Homo sapiens: one gene and its partners. The protein of the gene in region 3 interacts with the protein of the main gene of each other region in a biochemical or structural test. Each region holds a gene or a part of one and is shown on either strand. Other genes may lie near its edges. The genes, in order: RPS6KA1, RPS6KB1 and POLDIP3.

Region 1 (3,648 bases), on a different chromosome or scaffold from region 3:
TCCCAGCTACTCAGGAGGCTGAGGCAGGGGAATCGCTTGAACCCAGGAGGCGGAGGTTGCAGTGAGCCGAGATCACGCCACTGCACTCCAGCCTGGTGACAGAGTGAGACTCTGCCTCAAAAAAAAAAAAAAAAAAAAATTGGCCAGGCGTGGTGGCTCATGCCTGTAATACTAGCACTTTGGGAGGCTGAGGAAGGCGGATCACCTGAAGTCAGGAGTTTGAGACCAGCCTGACCAACATGGAGAAACCCTGTCTCTACTAAAAATACAAAATTAGCTAGGCGTGGTGGCGTGGGCCTGTAATCCCAGTTACTCGTGAGGCCGAGGCAGGAGAATCACTTGAACCCGGGAGGCAGAGGTTGTGATGAGCCGAGATTGCACCATTGCACTCCAGTCTGGGCAACGAGAGTGAAACTCCGTCTCAAAAAAGAAAAAAATATATATACAAAAATTAGCCAGGCGTGGTGGCATGTGCCTGTAATCCCAGCTACTCAGGAGGCTGAGGCAGGAGAATTGCCTGAACCTGCGGAGCGGAGGTTGCAGTGAGCCGAGATCACACCACTGCCCTCCAGTCTGAGCGATAGAGTGAGACTCCATCTCGGGAAAGAAAAAAAAAAAAAAAAAAAAAAGAACAGGCTTTTGGACATGGCTGCCTAGGTTCATTTTGGGCAGTGTGTTTCAACTAAGTTTATCACAATATTGATTACCCCTTGACTGAGACCTCTCATGTGTCCTTTGACTTTTTTTTAATGGGACAGGGTCTCACTCTGTCACCCAAGCTGGAGTGCAGTGGTGTGATCTTGGCTCACTGCAACCTTTGCCTCCCAGGTTCAAGCGATTCTAGTGCCTCAGCCTCCTGAGTAGCTGGGATTACAGACACACCAAACCTGGCTCATTTTTTTTGTATTTTTAGTAGAGACAGGGTTTCACCATGTTGGCCAGGCTGGTCTTGAGCTCCTGACCTCAAATGATCCACCCACCTTGGCCTCCCAAAGTGCTGGGATTACAGGCATGAGCCACCGCACCCAGCCTTGACTTTTATTAAAAGGAGAGGTGGAAGGCTAGGGAGTGCTTACTAAGACCAGACAAAATGTCTGAGCAATACACACAATGCAAAACTAAAGGCTTTTTTGGTCCATGTACTGGATTGGCAGTTTCCTCTCCAGCCTCATAGTCCCAAAGCCTTCACTAGTCCATCCATCTAGTATGAATTCTATTCATTCGTCACTGCCATTCCAGAATTGATGCTCACAGCTGCTTATCTTAGGAGATCTGGCCAATGTACTCCTCCTGCATGTCTTTCCGGAGTCTTGTTCAGGACACAATCCTTGGCCCTTGCTACAAGTAGAAGCTGCAGCTGCCTTCCAACACACCTTCTATGTCAGCACACAGGGCTGCAGGAGCTGGTCCCCTTCTTCTGTTTTAATTTTTGTGTTTTCCTCATTAGACATGACAAGGACCACACCGGAGTTAACTATTTTGGTCACCTTACATTTTCTTTTTTCTTTTTTTTTTTTTCTGAGATGGAGTTTCGCTCTCATCGCCCAGGCTGGAGTATGGTGGCGCGATCTCGGCTCACTGCAATCTCCACCTCCTGGGTTCAAGCAATTCTTGTGCCTCAACCTCCTGAGTAGCTGGGACTATAGGTGTGCATACCAGCATACCCAGATAATTTTTGTATTTTAGTAGAGATGGGGTTTTCCCATGTTGGCCAGGCTGGTCTCGAACTCTTGACCTCAAGTGATCCACTCGCCTCAGCTTTCCAAAGTGCTAGGATTACAGGTATGAGCCACAGCACCCAGCTTACCTTACATTTTCAAACCACCTCTACACTTTAGTTCAGGCAAACAGTTTCTCCTTCCCAGGGTCCCCTTCCTCAAACATTTTTGGTCTAGAGAAATCCACTCATCCTCCAAGGCTTCCCGCTCCTTAGGTGTCCCCTTGGCCTCTGGGCCCACCCTCTACAAGACTACACCACCACTCCCAGCTCCCCAGCGCGTCGGATATCCACGCACACCAGTCACAGCACCGGCTGCACCACACTGTCGGGTATGCTTAGCCTCTCCTGCCCAGCCTGTGAGCCCTTCACAGCAGGGACCCAGGCTTTTCATCTTTCTCCTCCCTCTGAAGCTGCCACCATACCTCCTGGGGGATGACTTCCACACCCACCAGGCTGGCCTTAGGATACCAAAGCCACCCATAACGTCCTTAAGGCTGACGCCTCCTACTGCCCCCACTACCTCCCCAGCTAGGATTTGGCTCTGACTGGGATCAGAGGTGCACACCACCACACCCAGCTCATTTCTTTGTATTTTTAGTAGAGACGGGGTTTCAACATGTTGGTCAGGTCTTGAACTCCTGACCTCAAATGACCCGCCCACCTCAGCCTCCCAAAGTGCTGGGATTACAGGTGTGAGCCACCGCGCCCGGCCTTGACTTATTTAAAGAGAGACTTGGCTATGACTCTGCCGGGTCAGTGGTCACACTGGTTCCCAGGCCAAGTGGTCAGTATCCAACCCAAAGCCCACTACCAACCATCTTCACACCCTTTGTAAGTCCCCAGAACTCTAACCTTGGCTCGGGGCTCCCTTCTGAACCTCTCTGCCATCCAGCTCTGTGGCCCTGCCTGGACTCACCCTCTCTTGCCTAGCCCAGCTGCCTCCCTGGGCTCCCTGCCTCTTCACTCACGCCCTTCTCTCAGGCCCCTGAGTTAGGGGCCACAGAGGTCTCCCCCAGACTCTTCTAGCATCAACAGTCAGAATGCCTCTGCTTGACCAGCTTGGTAGTTGAGGGCCCCGCCCCCTGACAAACACATTGCATTTACCCTATTACCACCTTCCAGACCTTCACAGCCAGTCACTAGCACTTGGCTTAGGGGGAGGAGGATTGGCTGGCGAGGGATAGCTGAGAAATAGGCCTGTTTCTCCACCTTTGAACTAGGTGCTCCTGAAGACAGAGCTGTCTCCCTTGCCAGACCCAAGGCCCTTGAAGTCTGGGCTGCCTCCCTCAGCCAAGCCTGGGTTCTGCACAGGGAGGTGTCCCCACTCACCTTTCAGCGTTGCCTTCTTCAGCACCTTCATAGCATACAGGTGCCCACTGTCAGGCCGGGTGACTTTCCGCACCAGGAAGACCTGAGAAGGCAGAGCAGGAAGCAGGGCAGAAGATGGGAGAGGTCTGAGTCCAGGCTGACCTCTATCTTCTCTGAGCCCCAAGCTGACCTTTTTGCTCTCCCTGGGTACCAAGGTGACCTCTGATCCTTTGGGCCCCTAGGTGACCCTTGACCCCCACCTCTAACATGACGAGTGTTGCCTTCACAGCTATGGGCTCATGACTCACTTTGCCAAAGGATCCCTGGCCCAGAACCTTGAGGAGCTCGAAATGGGATGGATCAGCCTTCTCAGAGCCAGCCTTGACGTGGTGCGTGATGGAGATCTCCTTGAGGACGCCCTCATCCTGATGGAGGGACAGAGCTGGTGGGCATGGTGGGCCCCATCCAGGCAGCAGGAGGCTCCCCTGCCCAAGTCCATTCCCACCAGACCACAGCAGATGGAACCTAAAGGCCCAATAGACGACTTCCCTGAAGGGCTAGCCTCCAGGGTCATCGATTTCAAAAGAGCCTCAAAGTCTGGGGAGGTCAAACCAGAACAG
Region 2 (3,648 bases), on a different chromosome or scaffold from region 3:
ATGGGGCAGTATCAAGGGGGAAAAAACCAATTCTCACCATTTTAACTGGATACAGTTTCTTTTATGTGTGGGATATGGGGGTGGTCATGGTTAAAGGTTTTTTTTGTCTTTGTTGCTCTACGTAATCGCCTAGGATGGCTTCACTTTTATGACAAAAGACTAACTTCTTCCAGATGTGATAAAACTGGTATTACATAATTGTTTTTTCTTTAATGTTAGTTTTACTTAATTCTAAATTAAAGACTACAGAGTAGTTAAGACTGGACCATGATTTTGAAGCCACCTCACAAGATACGCCCTGTAGCTATGTTTCATTTCCTAAGCTGGCCAGACCTATAATGCTGGCACCTGCATATTGTGCTAATAACTTCTACCGTTACTGTCTAGGACAGAAGCATTTGAGGCACAAATCTTTCCTGCTACTCAGTGTTACCTCTAGAAGGCTCACACAAGAAGTGTCAAATAACATTATGTAATACATACTGACAACTCTCTTTCACAGGAAACTCTTTACTCCTTTTTTTTTTTTTTCTGAGACGAAGTCTTGCTCTTGTCCCCCAGGCTGGAGAACAATGGCGCGATCTTGGCTCACTGCAACCTCTGCCTCCCAGGTTCAAGTGATTCTCCTGCCTCAGCCTCCCGAGTAGCTGGGATTACAGGTGCCTGACACCAGGCCCGGCTAATTTTTGTATTTTTAATAGAGACGGGGTTTTCACCATGTTGGCCAGGCTGGTCTCGAACCCCTGACCTCAGGTGATCTGCCCACCTTGGCCTCCCAAAGTGCTGGGATTACAGGCATGAGCCACCCCGCCTGGCCAGGAAACTCTTTACTCCTAATTTTTTTCTGCTGCCTTAAGCTTTATGGCCTATCCAATGTCTGCTGTGTTCATTAGGATTGACAAGATTCAGTAACTTAGAGGAAATGGAAGAAAGGGTAGAACTTTGCCTAAACTCTTGGGCTATTTAAAAATAGTTGCTGCTGGCCGGGCACGGTGGCTCATGCCTGTAATCCCAGCACTTTGGGAGGCCGAGGCAGGTGTATCGCCTGAAGTCAAGAGTTTGAGACCAGCCTGGCCAACATGGTGAAACCCCGTCTCTACCAAAAAAATACAAAAAATTAGCTGGGTGTGGTAGTCGGCACCTGTAATCCCAGCTACTCGGGAGGCTGAGGCAGGAGAATAGCTTGAACCCAGGAGGCAGAGGTTGCAGTGAGCCGAGATCGCACCACTGCACTCCAGCCTGGGCCACAAGAGCAAAACTCCGTCTCAAAAAAATAAAAAATAAAAAAAAGTTGCTGCTTTATAGTAAGTATATATTACAAAGCAAGATAAGTATTGATATTTTTTCTATAATTTTTCATAATCATGAATATTTGAGTATATACTATCTATATAGCACTTTGGTTTTCAAAAATTTTAAACCTTTTACTCAATAAAAATCTGATGTCCCAATCTGAAACTTGTACAGTAAGCCTGCGTGATTATTTCAAATTTTGAATTAGAGTACAAAGTGAGAATTTTTTAAATTGCATTACAGTTTTCTACTACTCTTAATGCTATAGAGAGCAGAGAAGATTCCAACATTTTTGCAATCTAAATTCTCTGAAGGAAAACTTTTCCTTAGTTTCAATTTACTGCCCCAAATGATATCATCAACAGTGAAACAAAAAAACAAACAAAAAAGACACCCTCCGCCCAAAAACTCCCCTCTTACCAATAGGCTTTGATTATATTCCTCTGAGATATTTAAACAGAATCTTTTTTTTTTTTTTTTGAGACGGAATCTCACTGTGTCGCCCAGGCTGGAGTGCAGTGGTATGATCTTGGCTCACTGCAACCTCCACCTCCCAGGTTCAAGAGATTCTCCTGCCTCAGCCTCCTGAATAGCTGGGACTAGAGGTGTGCACCACCATGCCTGGCTAATTTTTGTATTTTTAGTAGAAACTGGGTTTCACCATATTGGCCAGGCTGGTCTCCTGCTCCTGACATCGTGATCCACCTGCCTCGGCCTCCCAAAGTGCTGGGATTACAGGCATGAGCCACTGTGCCCGGCCTTAAACAGGATCTTTTTTAAGTTAGGTGGCAGATATTCAACTTTGTCCATAAATGTATCATTTAGTCTCATCTTTTAATCTCTAATTAAATAAACTATGGAAATACCTATATTTACTAACGCATAGTCACTCTGTAACGTACCTTGAAAGGCACATCTCTCTAAACGGGATCAATTAGTTTTAAAAAAAAATACACACTATGATACTACAGTTGTAAAAATACAGCACCTCGAGTTTAACTGCAATTATTAAGTCTCTAGGTATACGAGGTTAAACCTGAATGATTGGTTCCTTAGCAATGACAAGACAAGCTGAATTTCTGTGAACTAGCTAATTGCTTAATACGCCAGGATATTTTGAGAGTACTGTACTTTACGTACTTATTTAATGTAACCCTCATGTTATAGAAAACATTAGAGATTAAGGAATTTACTCCAGGTCACAGAGTGAGTATGGCCAAAGGAATCTGAATTCACTTTTGACATACCACAAAGAGGAACATTATAAACACAACTAGTAAATGCAATGAAGAACCTGTGCAATGAAGCCTGCTGAATTAAGTCAGAAGACACTACCACTATGTGATCTTTGGCTATCATATGGCCTATGCCTCAGTTTCCTTACTATAAAATGAGGAAAACTGATATGCACCAATGTTTAAAAACTTTGTGTAATAAATTAAAGTCTATAAATTCACAAATAGAAACTATCAGAAGATTTTCTAAGAATCTAAACTTCTCTCATTTTCCAGAATTTTTTTTTTTTTTTATTTCAGGGTAATCTGGATGTCACCGAATCTCCTTGGATTGTCAACCCAATCGTACTCCAAATCTTCCATTATCCATCTTGAGGCACCTCTTAGAAAAAATAACACACTAAAAAGAAATATTTTCAACTCCAAAAAGTGTTGCTAAGACATATTTTACAGAAGTCTCTTCCTCAAAATCCTCTTTAATTGCCTTTGCTCTTTCCCCAGACTTTCTCTCCCCAAAATCGGGGCCATATTTCTTTCTCTTTCCTATTTCCACCAATTTTTCTGACCTCCTCCTCACACCTTCTCAAAATCCTACTTGCTTGTACCCAGCAGGACAAAAGCCCTGGAACACCTACTGTTCTTGAAACACAAGAAAGTGAAAAGAAAAGTCCCAGTTTACACAGGAATTTTAACAGAGTACTGTACTTTCAAAAAAGAATAAACCTGGCTGGGTGCGGTGGCTCACACCTGTATTTTGAGAGGCCAAGGCAGGCAGATCACCCAAGTTTGGAAGTTCCGGACCAGCCTGACCAACATGGAGAAACCCCGTCTCTACTAAAAATACAAAAATTAGCCGGGCCTGGTGGCGGGTGCCTGTAATCCCAGCTACTCGGGAGGCTGAGGCAGGAGAATCGCTTGAACCCGGGAAGTGGAGGCTGCAGTGAGCCGAGATAGCGCCATTGCACTCCAGCCTGGGCAAATAGAGCAAGACTCTGTCTCAGAAAAGAAAAAAAAATAAAATAAAATAAACCCAGTCTGGAAATTCTATCAGTTCAACTAATGAAGATATAAAGCACCTTCCTATCCAGTTTTCTCCCCTGCCCTGCTCCAAAGCCACTGT
Region 3 (3,648 bases):
GGCATGATGGCGCGTGCCTGTAATCCCAGCTGCTCGGGAGGCTGAGGCAGGAGAATTGTTTGAACCCCGAGGTGGAGGTTGCAGTGAGCCAAGATTGCGCCACTGCACTCCAGCCTGGGTGACAGGGCGAGACTCCGTCTCAAAAAAAAAAAAAAAAAAGAGGTCGTGAAGCTGAATGATGCCAGTTTGTTTCTTTACAAAGGGACCAGGCCTTTCCAGTAATTAGACTGCTCAAGTCTGCTATCAAGGGAACTATCAGCTTGCTCAGTGAGTCTCTATCCCTATTTGATACCCTAATTGAATAAATGCCATATTTATACTCATGCGTCTTGTACCCTGTGAGATGGGTACTGTTGATTACCCTCGTTGATGGATGAGGGACAGGCATGGAGAGGTGAAATAAGCCTGTTCAACATCACCCAGCTGATGAGAAGCAGTGGATCTAGGAATGGAGCCCGAGCAGTCTCGCTCTCAGGGCCCTGTGTGGAGTCACTGTGCTGTCCCAGCTCTGGAGACGCAGAATTCCACATGAGGAATGTGGAATTCAGCATGGGGATGACGCTGCTTCACCCAGACTTGGAGGAGCGTGGTGAATTGCCCGTGCCCATGCTCTGATGTGCCTCTCTGGCCGCTGCGTTCCTCCTTTCTCCCTGCCCTGGGTCAGTGCCTGTAAACACTGCCCTAAATCAGCAGGGCCCCCGTCACTTCTGCTTTATGCACCTTTTTCCTCAGACACATTAATACAGGGGAGTTTTGTTTCCAAGGGACCACATCCAGATGGAGGGGCTGTTTTTGGTGATCTGCACTGCCAAATGCCCGAGTGTCCCTGACAGTCGGAGCTGATGAGGCCAAGGCTGTGTGTGGTTCCTCTGGATGGCCAGAAGAGGAACCAAAACACTGAATTCTGGGCCTTCTTAAGAGTGGTGATCAGCACATTGTGATAGAAGCATATCTGGGAATGAACTTGGCCTCAAGCTTTTGGCCTTTTAATTTTTTTTTTTGTAAGCAAAAGCAGCTTTATTAAGAAAACAAAGGAATAAAAGAATGGCTACTCCACAGGCAGAGCAGCTCTTTTACATTTTTTATAGAGATGAGGTCTCACTGTGTTGCCCAGGTTGGTCTTGAACTCCTGGCCTCAAGCAGTCCTCTCACCTCAGCCTCCCAAAGTGCTGGGATGGCAGATGTGATCCACTATGCCTGGCCAAGCTTTTGGCCTTCTGACCAGCCTCATATTGTAGAATTTTTAGAAAGTCTAAGTGGTGTGGGTGAGCCTGTGGCTCCTGGGTAATTTTCCAGGTCAGGGCTGTATGGAAGCTTCCTGCCAAGAGCTTCTAGCACTGTGGGGAGTGGCTTCTGTGAGTGCGCGTTCAGGCTGTGTGTTTTTCTCTCCCCCTGCCCCTTCCCTATGGGATGTCACTGGCAGCCGGCAGCCTTTTTGGCTCCAGACCTCTAATAGAATTAGAGAGCTGGGAGGCATCGAGGGTTCATGCTCTCAGCAAGTTGTCAACCTCTTGGGGCTTCTTCAGAACATTGCAGGTCTGGCTTCTCAGATTCTTTTCTGTCTCTTCGTTTAGGCTGGGCTAAGCAGTTCCAAGCTTTCCATGTCCAAGGCCCTCCCTCTCACCAAAGTGGTTCAGAATGATGCATACACAGCTCCTGCTCTCCCTTCCTCTATTCGAACAAAAGCCTTGACCAACATGTCCCGGACACTGGTGAACAAGGAAGAACCCCCCAAAGAGCTGCCAGCTGCTGAGGTGAGGTGATGGTGGTGACTGCAGCAGTTGGGGTCAGGAGGGCTGTATGCTTATATGTACCTCATTGTGTTCCCCACAACGCCTTTGTGAGGTGGGCATTGCCACCCCCATTCTACAGATGAGCAAACCAAGACCTAGGGACTCTTACCCTCAAAGACCTTGCAGGCTAGTGGGGACGGCAGACCTGCTGAGAGATTGCGGTATCTGGTGATATGTTAGACTCTCTCAGAAGAAAGCTATTAGGAGGGCTGAGGACAGATTATCTCATTCCAGTTGGGAAGTCTGGGAAAAAGGGCTCTTTTAGCTGAGTGGGTCTGGAAGCATGAGTAGCCTTCCAGGTAGAGGCTCAGGGCCTGAGAGGCTTGCGTATTTGGGAGATGGGAGAGGGTCCATGCTTTTAGCATAGAGTGATGGGGGGTGTAGTGGACACTGAAGTTCAGGGGGCCCATTTGTGGTAACTCTCCATGGAGCTTTCCTCTGGGCCTTCCTAGTCACGTGCCTGGAGGAATTTCTGTTGTGGGAATGCTTATCAGCCATCTGGCTTCTGGTAATGCTCTTGTCTGTGTGGCAGCCTGTTCTCAGCCCATTGGAAGGCACCAAGATGACTGTGAATAATCTGCACCCTCGAGTCACTGAGGAGGACATTGTTGTAAGTACTGTGACCTACCAAACATTTAAATCTCAAACTGCCTCTGTGGCAAAGGTCTCTTAAGACCCACCCTCAGGTTTGATGACTGCTAGGACTCACCAGACTCAGCATATAGTCACGCTCAGGGCTGAGACTAATGACAGCAAAAGGATGCAGAGCAAATGGCTCATGGGGTGAAGTCGGGGGGAAACGAGGCACAAGCCTCCAGAGGCCCCTCCCAGCAGAGTCGCACAGGATGCTGGGTGCAACTCGCAGCAAGTTGTGACAATACATGTGACACCAGGGAAGCTCATTAAAGACTCAGTACCCAAAGGTTTTACTGGGGGCTGGTCACTTCGGCATTCTCTGTGTAGCATGTACTAAAATTCCAGACTCCCAGAGGGAAAGCAGCTGTTGAGCAGAAACCATGTTGTTTGCACAGTCCAGGCACAGTGAACTGTGGGGTGGCAGGAGCCCTCCTGAGATCCGAGTTCTCAGATGCCAGCCAAGGGCCACCCCTGGAATCGGACCTTTCAAACAATAGCAGTCAGCCCAGCTGCTTCACTCTTCTGCACAGCTTCTAGCCAAGGCCAGGTGCCTGGCCTGAATCTCAGAGTCAGGGGATATCTATGCTATAATGGGTCCTAAATGGGATCCTTTAGTCCCACTGGGCAGTATCCAATAGTTGTGTTTTCCTGTGTCCTTTGGAGGTATTACAAGATGATTCCAAAGTGAAAGAAGTGAGATGGATTGGTGGTATCCACCTTCCTGGTCCATCCCGTCCCACCCATGGCAGTCATGGGCAAAACCTGTCAAATGTCTGTGAGCGGGGTTCTGGATGCAGCTAGGACTTCTTTTCAACATCATTTTCATTCAGGCACCCAAAAGAGCCATTAGTTTAGAAATCCAGGCATCCTTTGAACTGTCAGATCACAAAATGAATACGTTTGGAGAATCCAGCCTCTCCCTGCAGTTAAGTCCCAGACTAACAGACTGCACTGGTCACTACATTTGTTAAATCTTTTTGTTTTGTTTTGTTTTGTTTTTGAGATGGAGTCTCACTCTGTCACCCAAGCTAGAGTGTAATGGTGTGATCTCGGTTCACTGCAACCTCTGCCTCCCAGGCTCTAGCAATTCTCCTGCCTCAGCCTCCCGAGTAGCTGGGATTAGAGGCGCCTGCCACTACGCCTGGCTAATTTTTGTATTTTCAGTAGAGGCAGGGTTTCACCATGTTGGCCAGGCTGGTCTCGAACTCGTGACCTCAAA

The links.
Region 1: the proteins of POLDIP3 (region 3) and RPS6KA1 form a complex in vitro, tested with the Homo sapiens proteins (one study listed by BioGRID).
Region 2: of the proteins of POLDIP3 (region 3) and RPS6KB1, one has a biochemical effect on the other in vitro, tested with the Homo sapiens proteins (one study listed by BioGRID).

Annotation. Positions count from the first base shown.
Region 1 is NC_000001.11:26,546,672-26,550,319, reverse strand, and holds part of RPS6KA1 (ribosomal protein S6 kinase alpha-1), read right to left. Parts: intron 3,454-3,648; coding exon 3,337-3,453; intron 3,132-3,336; coding exon 3,050-3,131; intron 1-3,049. UniProt on the Homo sapiens protein: Serine/threonine-protein kinase that acts downstream of ERK (MAPK1/ERK2 and MAPK3/ERK1) signaling and mediates mitogenic and stress-induced activation of the transcription factors CREB1, ETV1/ER81 and NR4A1/NUR77, regulates translation through RPS6 and EIF4B phosphorylation, and mediates cellular proliferation, survival, and differentiation by modulating mTOR signaling and repressing pro-apoptotic function of BAD and DAPK1.
Region 2 is NC_000017.11:59,896,090-59,899,737, reverse strand, and holds part of RPS6KB1 (ribosomal protein S6 kinase beta-1), read right to left. Parts: intron 1-3,648. UniProt on the Homo sapiens protein: Serine/threonine-protein kinase that acts downstream of mTOR signaling in response to growth factors and nutrients to promote cell proliferation, cell growth and cell cycle progression.
Region 3 is NC_000022.11:42,594,292-42,597,939, reverse strand, and holds part of POLDIP3 (polymerase delta-interacting protein 3), read left to right. Parts: intron 1-1,574; coding exon 1,575-1,754; intron 1,755-2,325; coding exon 2,326-2,403; intron 2,404-3,648. UniProt on the Homo sapiens protein: Is involved in regulation of translation. Is preferentially associated with CBC-bound spliced mRNA-protein complexes during the pioneer round of mRNA translation. Contributes to enhanced translational efficiency of spliced over nonspliced mRNAs.